Regions from separate parts of the Homo sapiens genome. Here region 1 is linked to region 2. Evidence: fine-mapped expression QTL. Tissue or cell type: whole blood. Region 2 holds a variant in brackets; the other region holds the start of a gene. All regions are shown on one strand. Distances are between the middles of the regions. Region 1 holds the start of SV2C-AS2 (SV2C antisense RNA 2). Region 2 overlaps SV2C (synaptic vesicle glycoprotein 2C).

Region 1 (10,455 bases), 18 kb before region 2:
TCTTTTTGTCTAGAATAAATTTTTGGAAATAAGCTTTTTCTGGACAACTCAGTTAAATAATTGGTAGAAGTTACAAGAGGGATACTCAAGACTCAGCATGGGGCATTTTGAAAAGTATAGGCAGTCCTTAAATCAGGAGGACATTGTGATCTAAAGATTCATCTGGAAGTTGGTTATTTGAAATACACAATGAATTTCATTTATCTTAGAGAAAAAATATTAAAAATGATGGCTAGGTCATCAGGTTAGCCTAAAAGAACTTTTGTAACACTGAATCCATCTAAGCTATCACATTACAATGCTAAAAGTACAAGAAACCCTTAAATATTTGTCTAATACGCAGATTTGTCCTTAATACACTCCTAATTTACATATTCTATGCGTTTTTTTCATATTCATATAATCATTCATTAAATATCTGCTAAGTGTCAAACACTGCACTAAGCTCCAGAGACCCCAAAATTAATAAGATGAAACCTCCATTTGCACTAAGATGGGTGAGACGAGATCATGGTAACATACATGCTGAGTGCAATGTTGAAGATACCCACAAAGTATTATGCAGCCAGGAGCATAGAAAGTGATATCGAGCTGAGGGTAGTGGCAGTTGAAGGAAAGCTTCTCAGGGGGGCTGGACAAGACTAGGAGTGTGCTGAAAGGAATAGTAGGAGCTTGCCAGGAGAAGGATGGCATGTGGATAGGGGTGTTCTCTGCCTCTCCCCGTACTCTCACATCTCCCTAACTTCCCTCATGGTACCCACTCAGGTTTGCCTTAGACACACCCCTAAAGGCTTCTTGAGGGCTAAACGGCTTACCTCCCTCCAGCCCCTAAATAAATTTCCTACTCCCAAGCAGGTGTTTTCAACCTAGGATTAGGATAGCAATCTGATTGAACCAAAGTGCACGTATAACCATGCCCTGAACTAATGATGCTTAAGCTTGGGTGCATCAGAATCACCTGGAGGAGCTTTCAAACCTTAGTGATGTGTTCAATACTGATGCCTAGGGCCACATGCACAGAGATTCTGAATTTATTGCTTTATTGGGGCCCAAGCATTAGTATTTTTTAGAAGCTCCACGTGACATGAAGGTGTATCCAGGGTTGAGAATCCTGCTGTCTTCCCAGGGATGTCTGCATTCTTTGAATTGATGTGGGTTTCATATACAAAGGAAATTATAAAAGCAAAACATCCACTCCACCTTTCTGACAAATGGTTTTCATTTCTGAATTCCCTTTAGTGTACTTCCAGTCATATAAATCACAGGAAATCAGAGGATTTAGACAATTTTGCTTTCTGCTTTTTTTTCATTCATATTACTGTTTTCTCATGTTGATGTTTTGTTTAAAATGAAATGATTTATTTAGCATGGAACCATTATTCTTGTAACCATGCCATTGGCTAATGGGAGCTTTCCAAATTTGGGGTAACAAGTGATTCTGCAATTAACACCTTCACATATATGACCTGCTTCGTTTGTGTGTGTTCATTAGGGAATATCAAGCAGCATAAAACATCCAAGGGAAAGTGTTTATGATGTGATGCAGGGGATACTGAGGCCAGCAAAGTATGCTTTGCACACTGGAGAGGAGAGAGAGAGGGATCCAACCCAAAGGCTTCCCATCCCTTTTTTCTTCTCCCTTCCTGCTTAGGCTCTTGTTAAACTCCCTTGTTTATTCTGCTTCTCACAGCACAGAGCTTAATTCATTTCACCAGAGGCAGCTTCTCACCTAACCTGAATTGTTTCCTTCTCTTCCAACTGTTACTCAGTTGCCTCAACTTGATTCCCTCCACGCTACCCTTCCCACTCCCCTCCAAGGGCTGGTTTATACCAATCTTGCACATCTCCTTGTCCAGAATTAGCCTTGTTTAGGTCCAGGTCACCTCTGGGGGAGTGGAGCTGGGTAGCCTTTGTAGTCACTCAGCACCACCTCTTCTCAGGACCGGTACAGATACCTATGTTACTTATTAAATGAAAGACTGAGCTAACAGATTTCCTGAGATCTTCCAAATATGTTGGAAGTCGATTTTTGTAATAGACATTTTAATGGAAATTAGTTGGGTCATATTTGTTTTTTTGATACCAGACTATCATATTTTTTTTTTCAGAGAGAAAAAATGAATTTCATATTAAGTCAGAAAAGACTGAATGCAATTGTTTTCTAATCTTCAAAGAAAGATAAAAATCTGTCTTACCCTAGTATCTATTATGTGTGTGTGTGTGTGTGTGTGTGTGTGTGTGCGCCTGGCCATGTTCCTTAATGAGGGCAAGATGGCACCCTGCACCCCTTCGAGCAGGGCCTTCCTTACACTCAAGTGGAGAAGGACTCACCTACAAGTTGTGAGCTGACAGGAATCCCTGGATCCCAAGTAGCCCTTTATCTCCCTCCCATCTCCACCACCATAAGGGGCTTTTGACTGCTTATTCCTGTTGAAATCAAATATTCTGGGAAGGTAATAACGGGAGCCTTTATGTCTTGTTTATCTGATTAACCTAGCTAGGGAGTGAGGGCCTGGGCCAGGGTAAATAATGATGGAATGACTGAGCACCCCTTGGAGTTCATCTGTGGCCAAGGTCATGAACATGGCTGTGCATCCCAACAGCCAAGTGAGCTGTTTAAAAATAGATTCCCACACCTACTGGGAGGGGAGGTAGATATGTCTGTGCTGGGAGCAGCACCACTGAGTCAGACATCTGGGTTTAAGGCTAAGTGATCCAGGACAAGTTACTTCCCCTCTCTGTGCCGCATTTTCCTCACCTGAACATGGGGTAAGAATACCTACTCTTACAGGATTGGGATGAGAATTAAATAAGTTGAGATCATTTAAAATTTCCAGCATCATGCCCGACCCACCCTCCACCACACAGATGAGGAAACCAAGGCTCAGAAGGGTGAAAGGCCTTTTCCAAATTATCCAGCTATTTTTCTGGCAGTGACTGCACCTGAATTCAGTGACCCCTAGATCAGTGCTTTCCTCCACTTTGTTGATGAAGTAGAGGGAGAGGGGGAGGTGGATCTCTAATAGGCAATGCTTTATGAGGAACGGGGAGCTGACAGCTGAAGGATCAGGAGGTCTCAGGCTGTGATGGAAGAAGTGGAAAGGGACCCAAAGGACAGCAGAGAGGACTGAAGACCAGTGCTCCCTCCCTTACACTGGCCCAAATGCTCACTCTGGAAAGCTGGGAGGCTGGACCCCATACGGGGAGGAAAACTATCATCCATAGCCAAATTAATTCTCAAATGCATATTTCATTCATTCATTCATTCATTCACCTAGAGTTATGGCAGTAAATAAGGAAGACAATGTCTTGCCCTCAAGGAGCTAACATTCTAGTGAGTTAAACAAGTACACATGCAACCTAACATCCTCTCATCATAAGGTCTGGGTGATAATTTCCTTTAAGTACTTCAGTATAAACAATATGATTGATAGATAAATTGTCTCTAATGCATACCCATATAATTTAAAGCACATTAATCAAGAATCAACAGGCCAGAGATGGTTACTTAGTGCTTTAAAGATCATTTTAGAAATCTGCATGAGAAGGTTTGTTAATGACCACGGAGATGATTTTTTCACTGATGATGTGAGTGCTGTTCTGTATAAGCAATGATTGGAAAGAATGTTCTGCCCTTAGCCTAATGAACATACAAGCGTCCTCCAAGCCCTGCAGCCTCAAGTTGGTGAAATGGTACTCCTGGTCTAGACTCCAGATTCTAGAGCCCCCTTATCCTGCACCCCACAATTAAAGGGGCATTCCCTTGTTTAGCTGGCCCACAAGTCTGGTGGCCCTGCTGTCAGCATATCAAGCACATGGCCCTTTCATGCAAGGGCTTGCTCAGTACCCAAGGACAGCGAGATGGACTTCCTTGGAGCTCAAAAACAAACTTTGTGACTGTTTTTGTGCTAGTACACTTGGCAGGATTTGCTTCCATTGTAATATATTGCCTGATGGCAAGGTTGTGGGAGCAGGAAGCATATATTCCCCACCCCCTTCACCCTCTACTTCTAACTACCAGAGACAAAATGAATCTGACTTTTGCTGGATAGCCAAAGCATAAACATATATAATATAATGATAAGGCGTATAAGGAAAAATCAAGCAGAGCAGAGGGCCAGGGATGGAGTGGATTACATAGGTTGGTTAGTCGCGATAGCTGAAAGATTCCTCTGTACCAAAATCTTCACAAATAAGTGAGATATTTATCTTTATATTAGACGTAGAATGTATTCAAGAAAGAATGAATGAAATTGCCATTACAGAATACCAGATGACGACAGTGAAGAGAATTCTAGAGCTAGAAAGGCCCTGAGATGCTATTTATTTCATACTCCTCATTTAAATCTCAAACAATCCAGGCCCAGCTAGGCTGAGTGGTGTCCCTGAGGTCGCACAGCTGGTCAGTAAGAGATCCAAGATGACAGACCTTCGGAACTGAAGAATGGGGAGGAAACAAGAGAACTCTGTCAAAACAAGGACAGTCCTAAGGGAAGGGCTTGGGTTGCTTAATTCTGGGAAAATGTTTTGATTTTAGCTCATCAAGGAAGAGACCAATCCCACTGCACTGGGTGATGGCAGCAGCTGCCCAGGACTCTCAGGGATCGGCAGGTGTGAACAATCAGATCCTCAAATCCTTTCTGACCTCATGTCTGAAACTGTGCATGCATAAGGGGGCATAAGGGGGAAAGAAAAGGGAAGAAGGTAGGCAGAGAAAGGCAGGAACATGCGGCCAAACGACACCATGAGACAGGCTTGCCTGGCCCTGGGAGTCTGTGCAGAGTTGCAGGACGGCCCTGAGAGCGTGGGCTGCATCTCACAAGGTGTGCGCTCCTGGCCCCGAGCGCCACGGAGGAGGGGTAAAGATGGCCCCTAATGGCTGGGCACGCTGGCTCATGTCTGTAATCCCAGCACGTTGGGAGGCCGAGGCAGGCAGATCACTTGAGGTCAGGAGTTCGAGACCAGCCTGGCCAACACGGTGAAACCCCGTCTCTATTAAAAATACAAAAATTAGCTGGGAGTGGTGGAAGGCACCTATAATCCCAGTTACTCAGGAGGCCGAGGCAGGAGAATTGCTTGAATCTGGGAAGCAGAGATTGCAGTGAGTGGAGATTGCGTCACTGCACTCCAGCCTGGGTGACAGAGTGAGACCCTGTCCCCCCCCCCAAAAAAAAAAAGTGGCCCCTGAGCCATAAGCACACAGGAAATGTGAGCAGGGGACTTGGCCACAGCCACATAGTGGCAGCAGAAAGTTAACACCTGGACGCAGAGAAACATAAAGGCCAAAACCTAGAACTGGAATGAGCTGGAACAGGCCTACACCGCGGGAGCTACATTTATGACTTTTGAGAGATTTACAACTTTCACAAAGCAGGGAGAGAAAAGTAGGGACCCTGATGGATGGAAAAAATCCATTTCAACCTGTCATTACATATACTTTCATTTTGAAGACTTCAAGAGATGAGGGAAAATTGACTTATTTTTCCCAGTTAGGGTATTGAGGGAAGCTGACCAGCACAGACTAAACCCAAAAAATGAAATGCATCTTCTGTTGGTGTTCTCAGTTCTACCGCAAAGAGGGTTGAAAGTAATTTTGCTGGTGGCAGGGACTGGGGACGGAGAAATGAGGGAAAAGGAAGCTCCCCCACACCAGTATGTTAGATGGTTGGGGCTCCTTTCAGATTTACGGCAAGCTGGAAAATCCATTCTATGTCTGGCTCATGTCACATTCATATTTCATGTCTATTAGAAGAATCTCATGCCACATCAATTGTTTGTGATCTACATTACATATAATAGGCTCTCTGCTTATCTTTGACACAGGTGAGGGGCTGATGTAGAAACTGTTAAAAGACTATACAATGACTTGTATATTCAATAATGGCTCAAACTTCAAAGGTCTATCATTTTGCCCTGCTCTTCATTTCTTTCCTCATAATGCTTCTCAAAGCAATCTTGTCTTTCCAGCCTCACAATCAAGGACAAATTCCTGAATGCAACATTTGCTTTTCCGTCTTCCCGCTTCACCTCACTCATCCCTGCAGAAGTACAAGTATTCCTGGCTTCTTCAAGTCTACGCCTAAGAATTAAGAGCCTTGGGGAGAAGGGCACTGCATCGACCACTGCATCTCAATCATTGTGGCAGACGTACCACAGCACTGGGAAGCTGGCCTTGGCAAGAATCTCAGGCTATTACTACAGAGTTGGGAAGAAGGTTTAGGATCAAGATAGAGGTGACTGACCAAGGTGAGTGCATGAGCAGAGAGGTGCCTTCAACTTCCACTGCAGACAGTTCTGATATCTTGCCTCTACCTGAGGTGAGTTCTAGCCCTGGGCAAGTCAGTCCAATGAATGTCATTGAGAACCAGCTGCAAACTACTACTGCCCTACTGACCTAAGCACAGAGGTTATAGGGAAGTCTAACTTGCAAAGCCTTCTCTCAATGTCATACACCATTTTTGAAGATCAAGACATCTTAATACTTTGACCACTTGCTTCCAGGCTAGTTTTTTTGTATTCCACTCTGCCAGCCTGAGTTTCTAGCTCACTGAACTCTTGTCTCCTGGCCTGGTATCCTAACTCTGGTGTCTGTTATTTCTTAGTCCAGATCTGTGTTACCTCTGGATTTTCTTACGTTGATGGATTTACCCCCAGACTCCAACTCTTGCCTCTCAGACATGTTATTTCTATGGAGGCCTTTGTTTTCTGTTTCCTTTGACTTGAACTATTCCAGGTCTCTCTCTTAGACATATTTTCAGAATCTAACCACTTTCTCACCACCTCCATTGGCACCATTACCTCTTGCCACATTTCTTGCTGTGGACTTCATAAGTCAGTTCATGTCACTCATCTGCCCCCAAACCCCACATTGGATTTCATTTTACTCAGCAAGAAGACCAAAGCCCTTTTATTGTCCACTCTGACCCCATGGCTTCTTACCCTCTACCTTGGTCATTCTGCTCCAGCCAGACAAGCTTTGCCTCTCTTCCAACTGGTCTCTCACACTCCCACCTCAGGACCTTTGCACCTGCTGTTGCCTCTGCTGTGAATACACTCTCTCCAGATGTCTGCCTGGGTCTTTGCTCAAATGTCAGCTTTACAGTCACATCCCCCTAGACCATTCTATTTACAGTTGTAACTCTCCTTACCCCAGCATTCTCTATGCTCCACGTAGCTTTATTTTTCTCTACAGCACTTAGCACCATCCAATATACTACATCTACTTTACTTATCTGTTTGTTGGACTGTCTTCCTCAAACTATTATAGAATATAAGCTCTATCAAGGCAAAGCTTTCTGTCTGTTTTGTTCACTGCTGTCTCCCAATGACTAAAATAGTTCCTGGCACAGGATATGCATTCCATAATCATTTTTTTTTTTTGAATGAAATAGTGAATGACCTCTCTATCCCCAGCTCAGGTATCTTTCTGGCATCCAAACAAAAATATTCAAATGCCAATCGGACAGCCCCAGGTTGATGTAAAAACTCAACATGTCCAAAATGGAACTTATTACCTTCTTGACCACAGCCCAGACCCACTGTCCCTCCTGTGTCCCAGCCTCAAAATGCCATTGTGCTCCTGCAGGTGGTTTTTAAAATTAAAAAACATAAACAAAACCTGCCATCTCCATTCACTCAACTGTACACGCAGAAACTGGAATCATCTTTCTTTGACAACCTCTTTTCTTCCCCCTAACATCTAATCAAGCACCAAGCTTTGTTGAATGTATCCCTAAATATCTGTGAACATGTTGAGTGTTGACTTTTCCCCTTTCCAACCTACATTTTTCTTTCTTTCTTTCTGTTTTTTTTTTTTTTTTTTTTTTTTTTGAGATGGAGTTTCGCTCTGTCGCCCAGGCTGGAGCACAGTGGTGCGATCTCGGCTCACTGCAAGCTCCGCCTCCCGGGTTCACGCCATTCTCCTGCCTCAGCCTCCCGAGTGGCTGGGACTACAGGCGCCAGCCACGATGCCTGGCTAATTTTTTGTATTTTTAGTAGAGACGGGGTTTCACCTTGTTAGCCAGGATGGTCTCGATCTCCTGACCTCGTAATCCGCCTGCCTTGGCCTCCCAAAGTGCTGGGATTACAGACGTGAGCCACCGTGCCCGGCCTCCAACCTACAACTTAAGTGTCTTAACCAGCCTCCCTGCCTTCTTTCTGGCCATTAGAGGGAGCTCTCTAAAGGCCAAGAATGATCTTGTCATTCTCTGTAAGACAGCTCAAAGTCTCCCCGTCCCCACACAATAAGGCAATGTGAAAGAGTCTTCATGACTTGTTCTTTGAGTAACTCTTTTACTTCCAGAGCTTGTTAGCTGGTATTTGCTCTAACTGAAATGTTCTTTCCATCTTTTTGACTGGTTATCACCTACTAGATCTCAATTAAATGGAACTTCTTTCAAGAAAACCTCTCTGATGCTCTGAGCATCATGCACTTCCCATGTAATAACCCTGACCACTATATTACAACTGAAGTTTGCTTGTGCTTATGAGAATAAAGACCACAACTGATTTACTCACGGTTGTATCATAGGTGCTCAAAAAAATAGTTGTTGAGTAAATAAACAAACAGTATTAAAATTCACACCGAGATGGAATAGATATACTTTTCTTATTCTTCTTGATAAGTACAACAAAATATCCTGCACATTATATATAAAACAAACAGAACAAGACTGAAAGAGGAAAAAGGCAGAACTGCTAGGGAGCTTGGGGATGGGGAGTTCCCTGCGTTTGCCTTCTGCTCCATAGATCTCAGACTTGGAATCGAACAAGTTGCCAACCCAGAAATGCCAATAGGCACAGAAAAAGAAAAGCCACAACCAAAGCCTGCTCTCTCTAGCCCAAGGACCAGGAAAACGGCAGTCTAGCAAGATAGAAAACTTTTAGATAATAACCTCTCTCCTCAGACCAAACACCAGGAAAAAATTGTAGCTCAACTGCCAGCTACATCAGCAAAGGTCTGGTGGTAGCCTAGACTTCCACCCTTGTGAAACTAAGAAGACCTGTCAACACTACCATTGGGATGCCATCAGAGAAGGGTAAGTAAGGAGCTGGGACTTTCATCCCTGCTGGGTGGTAATGAGCTCCTCCTTCCCTCCCTCCCATGGTATCCATGATCAGGAAGGGAGTGTGGACTCCCAGCAGTAATGAGAATGCCCACTCTTGGGTGTCACTGGAGCTTAAGTGGAGTACCTGGACTTCTACGTCCACCTGGTAATAATAAGGCAATGCCTCCCTTTCGCTTGCCAGAGAGGAGTCACAGAAAGCCAATTCAAGCAAAAGGCTTAAATAAGATCCAAATTCTCATAACATAATATGTAAATGACTGCTTCCAATCAGAAACTGTTTGTCATACAAATAAACAGGAAGATTTCAAACAGAATGAAAAAAGACAATCAATAGATGGCAACACTGATATGACAGAGATGTTAGAATTATCTGATGAATATTTTAAAGCAGCCATAATAAGGCTTCAATGAGCAACTATGAACACACTTGAAACACATGAAATTTAGAAAGCATCACGGCAAAAATGGAAAAAATAGAAAGCCCTAGCAAAGAAGTAGAAGAAATAAAGAAGAACTAAATGAAAATTTTAGAACTGAAAAATATGATAACCAAAATAAAAAGCTTAGTGGTTGGGCTCAACAGCAGAATGGAGGAGACAGAGGAAAGAACCAGTGAACTGGAAGACAGAACAATGGAAACTATCTAAAGTGAAGAACAGAGAAAACAAACTAAATCAGGGACCTGCGGAACTATAACAAAAGATCTAATATTTATGTTGCTGGAGTTCAGGCAGAAGAGAAAAAGGGCAGCACTGAAAAAGTATTCAAATAGTTAAATTTTACGGGAGGCCATTGTTTTGGGCTAGTCTCCTGCACCTAGGCCACAGCAGACCAGTCCTAAGCAGAATGGAGTCACTCAGGCTAAGTGCCACCTAATCAAATTGAACTTTGAAAAGAGCCAGTTTTCCAAAAAACAGGTGATTCCGGCCAACCCAAATGAGCATAATAAGGAAGTCCCCTCTGTTTTAGCCCTTTACAGAAAGGGACTTTGAAAGGGCTATCTGCTTTTTGTTCTCTGTATCTGCTCTCTTTAGAGCTTTTCTGCCTATGAAGCCAACTTTCTCTGCTCAGCTCATTAGAGCACTCACCCCATTTTATAGAGTGAGGTGTTGCCTGCTTCTAGAATAGCAGATAAAAGTCAACTAGCTCTTTACACTAAATTTGTTGTAATTTTGTTTTTTGACAAAATAAATAATGGCTGAAAACCTCATAAATTTGGCAAAAGCTGTAAACCTACAGATTCAAGAAGCTGAGCAAACCCCAAACATAGTAAACCCAAAGAAATCCATGGCAGGCAAAGAAAAAACCTGAAAAGCAACCAGAGGAATCAATAGTTTATTCCTATTGGGAAAAAATACTTAAGACTGTAGATCATCCCCCTCTACAA
Region 2 (10,455 bases):
CAGCTACTGTGAAAACTAAATGAGATAATGAATGTCTAATGACCTAGAGTAGAAAACAGTATATAGGTGTTCAATCAATGCTTGTTTGCCTTCCTTTTTTTTCCCCCTGGGGAGTTTAAAATACCCCATTATATGGATTTGGCCAAAATATATATGTATCTGAGCATAGCCACATGTTGTCTATCTCTGTTGGCTATAGAGTTGAGGCATTTAAACAAACACCAGATTTTGAACCCAGGATTATCAAAACAAATAAACTACAGGTTAGGTCTTTGCTTTAAAAATTTATTCATCAAAGGATTTTTTTGTTGTTGTTGTTGCCAACTTTTGAACTTTGGCAAGCTCCATTTGCACTAAATCTGACAAAGACAAACAATACAAGCCAACCTTTGATCCAACCTGATTTAGAGAACTTGTTCCATTTATTCTTTAATATCCACTTCCCGCATAAGCCTCTGCCCACATTATCACATGGTTATCACAGTGGGCCCTTTGGAGAGGCCTCAGGTAGAGGCAGTACTAAGTAGCACACCTACCTGTGTTGTCAAAAACAGTGTCAATAAATGTGCAGTTCTTGAAGTAGGTGTTCACTGAAGTTACATCCTCAAAGGTGCAGGACTTAAAAACAGAGTCTTTGAAAGTTACAGATTTGAACTTGACCCCTATGAATCTGCCCAACACACAGAAAAATTCATATCAATCAATGACTGTGTCCATCAAAGTTCAAAGCTAAGTCAAATAGTTTTAGAGATGGAATGCCCCACTATGGACTGTCTTAATTATAAAGAACACAGAGTTCTTGATTTTCTTAGCTCTCTGCTTTTTCCCCTTTTTCTCATCCAGGCTGACCTTTGGCTATCTTATTGCTTACCAATATTATTTTTCACCAGGAAAAGAGATGACACTCCTAACTTCCCTTAGCTTTTTGTAATGTTGGTAAAAAGTTTTGTGGGGTATGCAACTGAAGATAGTTTGGGGATTACCTGGGGCTATTCTTTAGGTTTTAATCCTATCGTCTCTTCATGTATATCTTTATTTGAATATTCTCTATTTGGGGTTAATGGCTCTAACTTAAGGATGTCCTCCTACCCGATCTTTTAATAACTTTATTTTTCCCTAGCTGAAAATCCAAGTCTTCTTCATTCTAGTGTAGGGACCTGTAATTATCCTGAAGAGAGAGCATGAGAATTCTGTTTCATTTATGTGAGGAATAACTGACTTGGGGTTGAAGAAACTCATAGGTGACGCTCATTTCCAGGATAATTTTTCTTCTCACAGCCAACAGATAGTCCTTGAACCAAAAGGAATTATGAGAACTCTGCTTATTTTTGGAAACATGAAGAATGATGAAACCTGTTCAGGTATATTTTTGGGTATTATAAGGGGGAATTCTACGTGGTAAAAATGGTAACAGTCATAATGATAATAACATCTTAGAAGAGTCCATGATCCAGGCCTTATCAGCATTGATAAGGACTCCCAGCAGACACAGATAAATATTCATTAACGTGTCCTGGTACTTTATTAAGAGACTATGAATGTACACTTAGCCAGTCACTGAGAGGAAAATGCTTGTTCTCCTCGGGAAGGAGTTGTTATGTCAATACCACTCTTATTAGGGGCAGAAAGGGACTGATCCTTCTAGGTAAGTAGGTTGATTTAAAAGCAGTTTACTAACTATTGAGTACTTTCAAATTTATTCTCTCCCTAATACCCAATTACGTGTGTTGGTTCAAAATGCACATGGCCTCACAGACCAATCAGCTTAAAAAAGAAATCATTCCCATGGTACATTACCTGGAAATAATAATAATGATCTCGTTTCAATCCCCACTCCAGGGACCCAGAGTAAAAACATCTAAATGCACCAAAAGAGACTAAATAATGGCACATCTTTAAAAAGTTATCAATTTTTTCTGTCATGGAACTGAATTTGGAAAAGGGAATGAATCAGTTTTATTTTTTGAATGGATAATTCAGAGAGTACACATGGTGCACAATTCGAAAGGTTGAAAATGGAAAAAGTCAGTCTTTTCCCATCCATCCCCAGGCCACAAGTTCCTCTGCCCAGAATAACCATTGTTGTCAGTTTCTTGTGTGCTCCTCCAGGAGCATTCTGTGTCTAAAGTACACCTGCTTTATCTCCTTCTAGTCTACCTTGGAGGTTATTCCGTATCAGTATATAAAGAGTTGCCATTTTATGATGCTGAATAAAAAAGCTATTTTTTAAAAAATTTCGTTAATGGTATTTCAAATTTTCCTGAAGGACAAAAAAATTGTTTCTATCATCTTTTAAAATAAATGTGTAACATATGTTTTACAAAAACTGTAATACTATTAAAATTAGTAATCATTATATTGCTAATGTAAAAAAGTTCTAAGCAGTGACTGAGTATCCAGTTTAGAACTTTAACATATATTACTAAAAATATGACTGTCAGAGACACAAACATATATTAGAAATTTCTAATGGAGTAACAATACTTTTGAAAGTCAGTTTTCACCCTGGCATCACAGAGGACTTGACACTAAGCTTTCTGTGAAATGCTAAGTGCAGATTCAAGTCAGTATTTTATGTGGGAGAGTGAAGGTGATCCCACTTGGCTTGGATGATGATTAGTTCCTTCATTGAATTGCTAATTTGAACAATTACCTCCTAGTTAGTAACCCTCTTTTCCATTACATAGATCATAAGCATCCCACTGAATTCTTTTTCATCTTTCTGAACTGGTTTTTGCCCTGGGGAACTTTGATTATTTTAGAGTTTTATTTTATCACTTTTGAAATTGGGACAACTTCCTAAGAATGATGTAAACTATCATGAACTTACACTGGCAATTATTTGTTCAGGCAACAAAAATACTTGGATATAAACAAGTACTTGGTCTACTCTTTTCCATCTCTAAAAGAATGACCCAGGACCACCTCCCTGAGTCAGTTCTCTCTTGTCATCAAGAAGTATTTCAGATCCCATAAAGGAGACCCTTCCGTCTTTCAAAGCCCTTTACTTTGGGGAATGATTCCTGTTCTCTAATTGAAACTCTTCCTGATGCAATTTAACCTCAATTCTGGATTCAGCGTATTGGGAAGGATGAATTCTGAAAAGTGGCTCTGTTTCTCAGGAATAGAAGACTCATATAATCACATTTCAGATTTCTTCTGTGAATTAAATAATCCTATAGCCTGTCTTATTTTCCCATACTCTTCACTCTTCTCTTCCTTCCATTATTTTTGTTGCTCTCCAACATTGCTCTAAATTTTCCTTCCACACCAGTCAAGTCCACTACCTAATAAATATGAAGCAACTTAGCTGCAAAAATAGTTTTAAGTGAAGTAATGGATACATTTGTACCTTTTATTTAAAGCCTATTAAGAAGTATTGAAATTCATCATGAAAATGACTAAATGTACAAACTAAAACAAACAAACAAAAAACTATGCCTGTTTCAGTGCAGGGAAAGCTAAGAAGAAATAAGTTTTTGTGAATAGGTAGCAAATTAAATTATTTCAAGTTTCTAGACCTGCCATTGTCGTATTCCATTCCAGTATGAATCTGATTTTCCATTGTAAAGTTAATAGTGAAATTTGCATATTTATCTCTCTCCACATTTCTGGTTAGCAATGCATATTCATCGGACTGCAGAGGTTTAATGACATCAGGGAACCAAACGGATAATCCATAGTACCTGCAAAGACAAAGAAATGTGAGTTTGTAAAGGCACTAGCATGCCAGAGGCAATGAGCAACTCCCTGATGTTTTCAGACTGGTAATAGTTCCCGGAGAATGGCTGGCTCCCTATAACATTATGAGTAATTCATCATACAGCAATCCATGTGTCCCTCTCCCCCAGCATTAATCTGCAAAAATCAAGCTTGAGAGATGGCCTATGGTTAGCTGGAGAACCCCAGGTATGTAATTCCTAAACCCTTCCTTTGGGAAGAGACATGCAGAAAGCATCCGATCCTATGCCCATACATGGTGCCTGGTCTGAATGTGTCCTTCCAAAACTTATGTGTTGGAACTTAAACCCCAGTATAATAATATTAGAGGTGGGGGCTTTAGGAGGTGATTAAGTTATGAGGGCAGAGACCTCATGAATGAGATTAATGTCCTTATAAAAAGAGGTGCGAGGGTGCTGCCTCTCTCACTTTTTCCCTTCCATCCCTTCTACCACTGAGGACACAGTATTTGTCCCCTCTGGAGGACTCAGCGACAAGCTGCCATCTTGGAAGCAGAGACTGTGCCATTACTGCACACTGAATCTGCCAGCAGCTTGAGCTTGGACTTCCAGTCTTCAGGACTGTGAAAAATAAAATTCCTATTATTTACAAATTACCTGTTGTGGTATTTTGTTATAGCAGCAGAAATGGAGTAAGACATCTGACATCCTGGCCCCAATATCTTTCTCATCATTCCAGTCTGCTCTGAGAAACTCTCTCTCCTAGTCTGGTGGTACAAACTCCTGGGATCCAAGCACGGTGA[G/C]AGCCCCTAAAGAATGACCTCTTTTGCTAATGGGGAATCTTTCTTGGTTCCTACACTGCTGTGATACTGCTATCCTGGGGGTAGAATGCCAGTTCCCAAGGTAGTTAGAGGCTGGGAAGAGGACATTCGTGTTATTCTCAGAGATTCCAAGTTATTTCCCCTTTCTGCCTCTTGACCTCTAATGTGTTATTCTAACAGCTGTGTCATGCTGCTGTACTGTTCAGTACAGAAGCCACTAACCACGTGTGCCTACCAGGCAGTTGAGATGTGGCTGGTTCAAACTGAGATATACTATAAATATAAAATACCACAGGATTTTGAAGACTTACGGAAAAAAAGAAGGTAAAAATTGTTGCTAATAATTTTTATACTGATCATATGTTGAAATGACAGTGGCTCACGCCTATAATCCCAACACTTTGGGAGGCCGAGGCAGGCAGATCACAAGGTCAGGAGATCGAGACCAGCCTGGTCAACATGGTGAAACCCTACCTCTACTAAAAATACAAAAATTAGCCGGGCATGGTGGTGCACGCCTGTAGTCCCAGCTACTCAGGAAACTGAGGCAGAAGAATAGCTTGAACCAGGGAGTCGGAGGTTGCAGCGAGCCGATATCGTGCCAATGCACTCCAGCCTGGCAAAAGAGCGAGACTCCATCAAAAAAAAAAAAAAAAAAGAGAGAGAGAATGAATGAAACAAAATGTAGTATTAAAATTAATTTTATCTATTTCCTTTTACTTTGTGTGTGTGTGTATGGCTACCAGAAAATCTGAAATGACATCTGTGGTTCACACGATACCTCTATTAGACTGTGCTGCTCTAAAGTAGTACCTCCTAAGATAAGATAAGGTCCCCGGACCAGCAGGATCATCATCCCCCACAAACCCAGGTTCCAGTGAGACCTGATGAATTAAAAACTTTGGCAGGGGAGTCCTCCAGGGATTCTTCTGATGCACGTTCAAGTTTGAGAACCACTGCTCTAGTTTATTCCCAGTGACACTTAGCTACACAGGGAAAGAAGAGAGTATGGGCATAGCCTTTGCAGGAGGACAGGCTGGGTTTGAATCCTGGTCTTGTCGCTTACTAGCTGCCTAAACTTGGGCCAGTTATCTAAGCCTCAGTTGCCCATCTCTACTATTGGAATGATGGGAATATCCACCTTCCTGGGTGGTTGCTCAGTTTAAATGGGATGTCAAGTACCTAGCACATAGAAAGTGCTCAGAAGACAGTATGAGTCGTTTTTATCATCATTGTCATTAGGATTCCAAAAACATCTGTGCCTCAGGATTCCCACCCCTTTTCTTCATAGTAATGTCTGTGGGGGTGTGAGGGTAGTTATTGAGGAAGAAATGACTTAGGGGTACAACATTTATGGCATTGTTCTCTAGTCACATACATGGGGCACAAACCTTGAAATGGCAACAATGAGGAGGGCACATTACCTTGGAATGTCCATCCATCATCAATGATGTGGAGGGCTTTTGGCTAATTTGTCATTTATTTAGCAAACATTTACCGAACACGCACTAAATACTAGGCACTATTGAGGTTCCAGGGATATAGCAGTAAAACAAATCATAAAGCTTAAAATATGATCAATAATGAATTAGTAAACAAAATAAACAAGCCAGATAATGATGATTACTCTTTACACCTTGACAGCAGGACTTCCTTCTTGCTTATCTTTGTCTTCTTTGTCTTTAACCCCTTGCTTAGGTACAGAGTAAGCACTTAATATAGGTTAATATTTAGCCTTCCCTTCCTTCAGAGATTAATGGATTTTCTAGAGCTTGGGTGGGAATTACTTTACATATTCTAAGTCAACCCTCTTAATTTAGAAATGAGGAACTGAGAAATGTCTCCAAGTCACAAGCTAACCAAGTCACCCAGCAGAATGGGCTGCTAGGTCTCCTGACTCCCAGCTTCCTTCTTTCTCCGTATTCCACCTCCTCAGGCACTAAGAAAGAGTGGTCACCTTAGATCACTTGCCTGGTTTGATTTAGGGATGTTAAGAGATGAAACTTGCAACATAAATGTTAGGTTCTATAAGGTACTGAGTTCCTGCTGACCTGAAAGTGTAGAGTATTATCTAATTTTTCTTTTCTAAACAGCAAATTAGGCAACAATAGAGTTGTACACACACATTCTAAAGTGACTATGTCAGCGATTAACAAATAAAATCTTGTTATTTTCTCCCTATTTCCTCTTTTCCTGGAACACATATATGGCAGTTTAATTCATTTGGCAACAACTATTTATTGAGCTGCTATTACATGCCAGGAATATACATCAGTGAACAAGACATAAACAAAATTATTATTATTTTTTTAGAAATGGGGTCTTGATATGTTGCCCAGGCTGGAGGGCAGTGGCTAGTAACAGGTGTGATTATAACACTCTTAAGCTTCCAACTCCTGGGCTCAAGCAATCCTTCACCTCAGCTTCCAGAATAGCTTGGAATATAGGTGGATGGCACCACACTCAGCTTTGAACAAGGCAGTTAAAAACCCCTGTCCTCATGGAGCTTCCAGAGAGGGAAGCCAGAGCTTTACTCTTTATACAGAATAAAGGAGTGTTTTGCATATTAGAAGGTAGAAAGTGCTGTGGGGTAAAGTAGAGCTGAGAAGGGGATAGGGAGTGTGGAGGGGCTGCAATTTTTTAAAAAGAGAGGATGACATCACTGAGAAGGTGACATCTGAGGAAAGAGTTGAAGAGGGTAAAGAAATGAACTGGGCAGATGTCTGGAGGGGAAAGCAACTCAGGCAGAGGAACACCGCAAAGGCCCGAGATGGGAACTGTTCTAGAATGTTCAAAGAAGAGCAGAGAGGCTGGTATGGCTGGGGCTGGGCAAAGGAGGACAGGACAGAGAAGTCATGGGGCAAATCATCCAGGGCCTTACTGGATTTTGCAGATACAATTGGTTTTGCTACCTTAGCTTTATGACAAAACAAATAAAATAACTGGTTTATAAAAACCATAACTCTCAGCAAACCTAAGCTGAAAAAAATTTCTTCCTTAGCAGGTTAACAGCATCAAGCAGTATCAGAAAAGAAAGCAGCATGGCTAGGAGTTACAATGTGGACATTGAACGATTTTGCTTGCCAAGAATTTAAATATCACTTACCCAAAGGACAGGGTGAACCAAACAATTGTAAGCTTTATTGTATTATCCCTGACTGGGTAGTTGAAACATCTCATAAAAGTCAACCAAATCTGTGAAATATTAGAGAGTTAGTTTTCTCATGCAGTTACTTAGTCAACCCCACTCCCCGACCCCTTCCACCAAATTATAAAAAATGCTGAGTTGTCATTGGGTTGGATTCATTTCACCTTAAAATGTAAAAGTTAAAGGTAATTGGAATTTTCATTCTTCAGCTTCCTGGATGTCAATGGACAAGGTAACTCAAGATTTGAAGGCACCCTGCCACTGCCAAGACTCCTGGCCTAACACTTTCCCTTCCCACAGATGGAATGTATTGGCTAAATGCTGGTCGAGTGGGATCCAATTACCTGGCTCTAGTCCAGGAGTCAGGTGTCCTGGGCAGCAGGAAAGAACCTCGCTCATAGGGCAGGCCCAGTAAACCCCTCTTCTGACTAACCTCAAATGCAATAAATTAACATGCAGGTCATCATGGGACTTGTTACTTACTCCGTACAGCTCGGTGCGGATCCGAACAAAACACCTCCTATACCATGTTCCTGTGTCACTCTCAATTTCAATCAGCTCATCTATTTGTTTAGGAGTTTTTATTTTGTTTACCTGTAGAGAGAAACAGACCAAAGCGCTAAGTTACCTTCTCTGAAGTTGCTGAGTGTAGGGTTATAATTTGTTTTTACAGGAGCAAAAACTGACTCCGGCAAGAAGTAGGCGGTATTTGGTAATCAGTTCATACATATATGAGACCACTGCCATAAGTATATGGATCCAAACAGCACCTGGAAGAACTGAAGAAGGAATGAGTGAGAGGGAAAACCACAAAGAAATGGGGGAAGGGCAAGTAGTAATAGAATAATGTGAAACCAAAATGCCCTCCCTGAACCATTACTACAGAGACACACATTAGCAGACAAAACATCCAGATAAGTTAGATTCTGGATTAAGAATTATTTAGCTTGGGCTAAAGTGAGTCTACACATTTTTTTCTTTGAAACCTACTTATTTGATGAATTTGACCCCTAACTATAGTTCTGAAAGCATTCCCATCACTATTCTCAGAGCACCACTTCCGGTCCTTTTCTTCCTTCTCCCACAGCCTAACCCACAGTGGCTAGTCAGCAAATACCCACAGGTAGCCATGATTCAAGATTAAGTGAAGGATTTTTGACTGCAAGCATCAACATGAATTTCTCAGCCATATAAGGGAAATAAATGATAGAGGTTCAGCATGAAAAGCAGCATCTATGACTCAGTTAGCCTCTTTTTGCTAAGGAAGAGAACCACAAGATAGGAGAAGCACAGAGAATGAATCCTGAAAATAGAAAAAAATGAAGAATGGGTCCTTTGTGGGCCTGACCCGCCTTCTCCTGCTAATCAAGATTTACCTGTTTTTGATAAATCTGAGAGGACATGGAAATGTGTACACATTACCCCTGCCAGAGGTTTGAACAGGTTTTTCCGGACATCCTGCCAACATTTAAAGGGGTAACTCTATTGGCAGAGTACAGGTACCTAGGCCAGTTTTGGATAGAGGTGGCTTGGGGACCCTCAGCACCTTTCAAATTATACCAAGTAGGCAGTAGGTTCTTTCTGGCCAGGTAAACAAAGATGTCTGTACTTAGCAAAAATAATCTCTGAGTTAAATATGGAATTCCAAATCAAATGCAATCGGCTCAAAATAATCCATGTAGGAATTATGTTTTTTAAAACTCTAGATTTAAAAAGTTTTTTTTTCTTTTCTTTTTACATCATGGGATAGTCTTAATCCAACATACTACTTTTGGGAGGCTTCCGCTTTTTCACTCATCGATATTTGTTTGTTCATTTATTCATTGGCACCCATGCGGGATGCAAACATAGGCAGCCATGTGGCTCCAAACAATTACCATACAAAACGAAAAAAAGTACTCTAATGGGGATCTATAAAAGATGGGAAGGAAATACTGTTCAGAACAACCTACTTAACCTGGAAGTGAGAGAGAGGCTTCAGGAACTGCAGGCTTATAGAGAAATACGCTATCTGCCATGGATGTAACCTGCTTGGAGGATATTCCAAGTGGGAGAAATACCATGTGCAAACAAATGTCCAGAGTTAGGAGGGAAAATAGTGCACCGGGAAACTGCAAAGAGTTCGCGATTCCTGAAGGATAGTAGAAGGCCAGAGGGCAGTGAATAAGGAGGACTGCACCAAATCAGCAGCAGTGGAGTGATATTTAGGAGGTGGAATAATAGAACATAATGGTTTCTTAGATGTACCAAAGATAAAAGAAAGAATATAGTTTTTGGGTTTAGGTGGTGCTTGTGGTACCTACTGATGAAATTTAGGGCAATGATGAGGCTTGGAGACTGCTTAGGTGATAAATTCAGATTTAAAGATGCCATCTTTCCCCACCCCTCACTGCCCAAAGATGCCATTTTTGAAGGGCCTATGTGATCTAGAAGGATGCCCACAAAGTCCTTCAACCTGCATGTGTGGAGCTCAGGAGATTTGTGCATTAGGATACATGCAGGAAATAGCTGAGATCAGCTAAGGAGAGTGAATAGGGTTAAAGTGGAAGTTAGCTGAAAATGAAGTCTTCGAAAACAATATTTAAGGTAAGGGCACACTAAGAAGAGCTTCAGAGGACACCTTAAGAGGGCCAGGCATGGTGACTCACATCTGCAATTCCAGCCCTTTGCGAGGCTGAGGCAGAAGGATCACTTGAGCCTAGGAGTTTGAGACCAGCCTGGACAACATAAGGAGACCTGTTGTTAATTATCTACAAATAATTCAAAAATCAGCCAGATATGGTGGCACATGCCTGTATTCCCAGTT

What was found.
Region 1: it holds the start of SV2C-AS2, and the variant in region 2 is fine-mapped to the expression of SV2C-AS2 in whole blood (TOPMed, PIP above 0.99).

What each region holds. Positions count from the first base shown.
Region 1 is chr5:76,306,975-76,317,429 of GRCh38, reverse strand. It overlaps SV2C-AS2 (SV2C antisense RNA 2), which reads left to right and starts at 5,801. Exons shown (of 4, transcript XR_001742750.2): 1 at 5,801-6,246. The region is part of intron 12 of SV2C (synaptic vesicle glycoprotein 2C); the gene reads right to left.
Region 2 is chr5:76,289,009-76,299,463 of GRCh38, reverse strand. It overlaps SV2C (synaptic vesicle glycoprotein 2C), which reads right to left. Exons shown (of 13, transcript NM_014979.4): 7 at 8,133-8,243; 8 at 7,608-7,696; 9 at 3,522-3,686; 10 at 537-670. SV2C-AS2 (SV2C antisense RNA 2) reads left to right here. Exons shown (of 4, transcript XR_001742750.2): 2 at 1,279-1,361; 3 at 3,620-3,704; 4 at 4,360-4,484. Among named protein-coding and RNA genes, the nearest start is that of SV2C-AS2, 17 kb to the left of the region's middle. RefSeq lists enhancers at 2,388-3,270, 3,250-4,449. The variant G/C (reference allele first, on the strand shown) is at 4,484.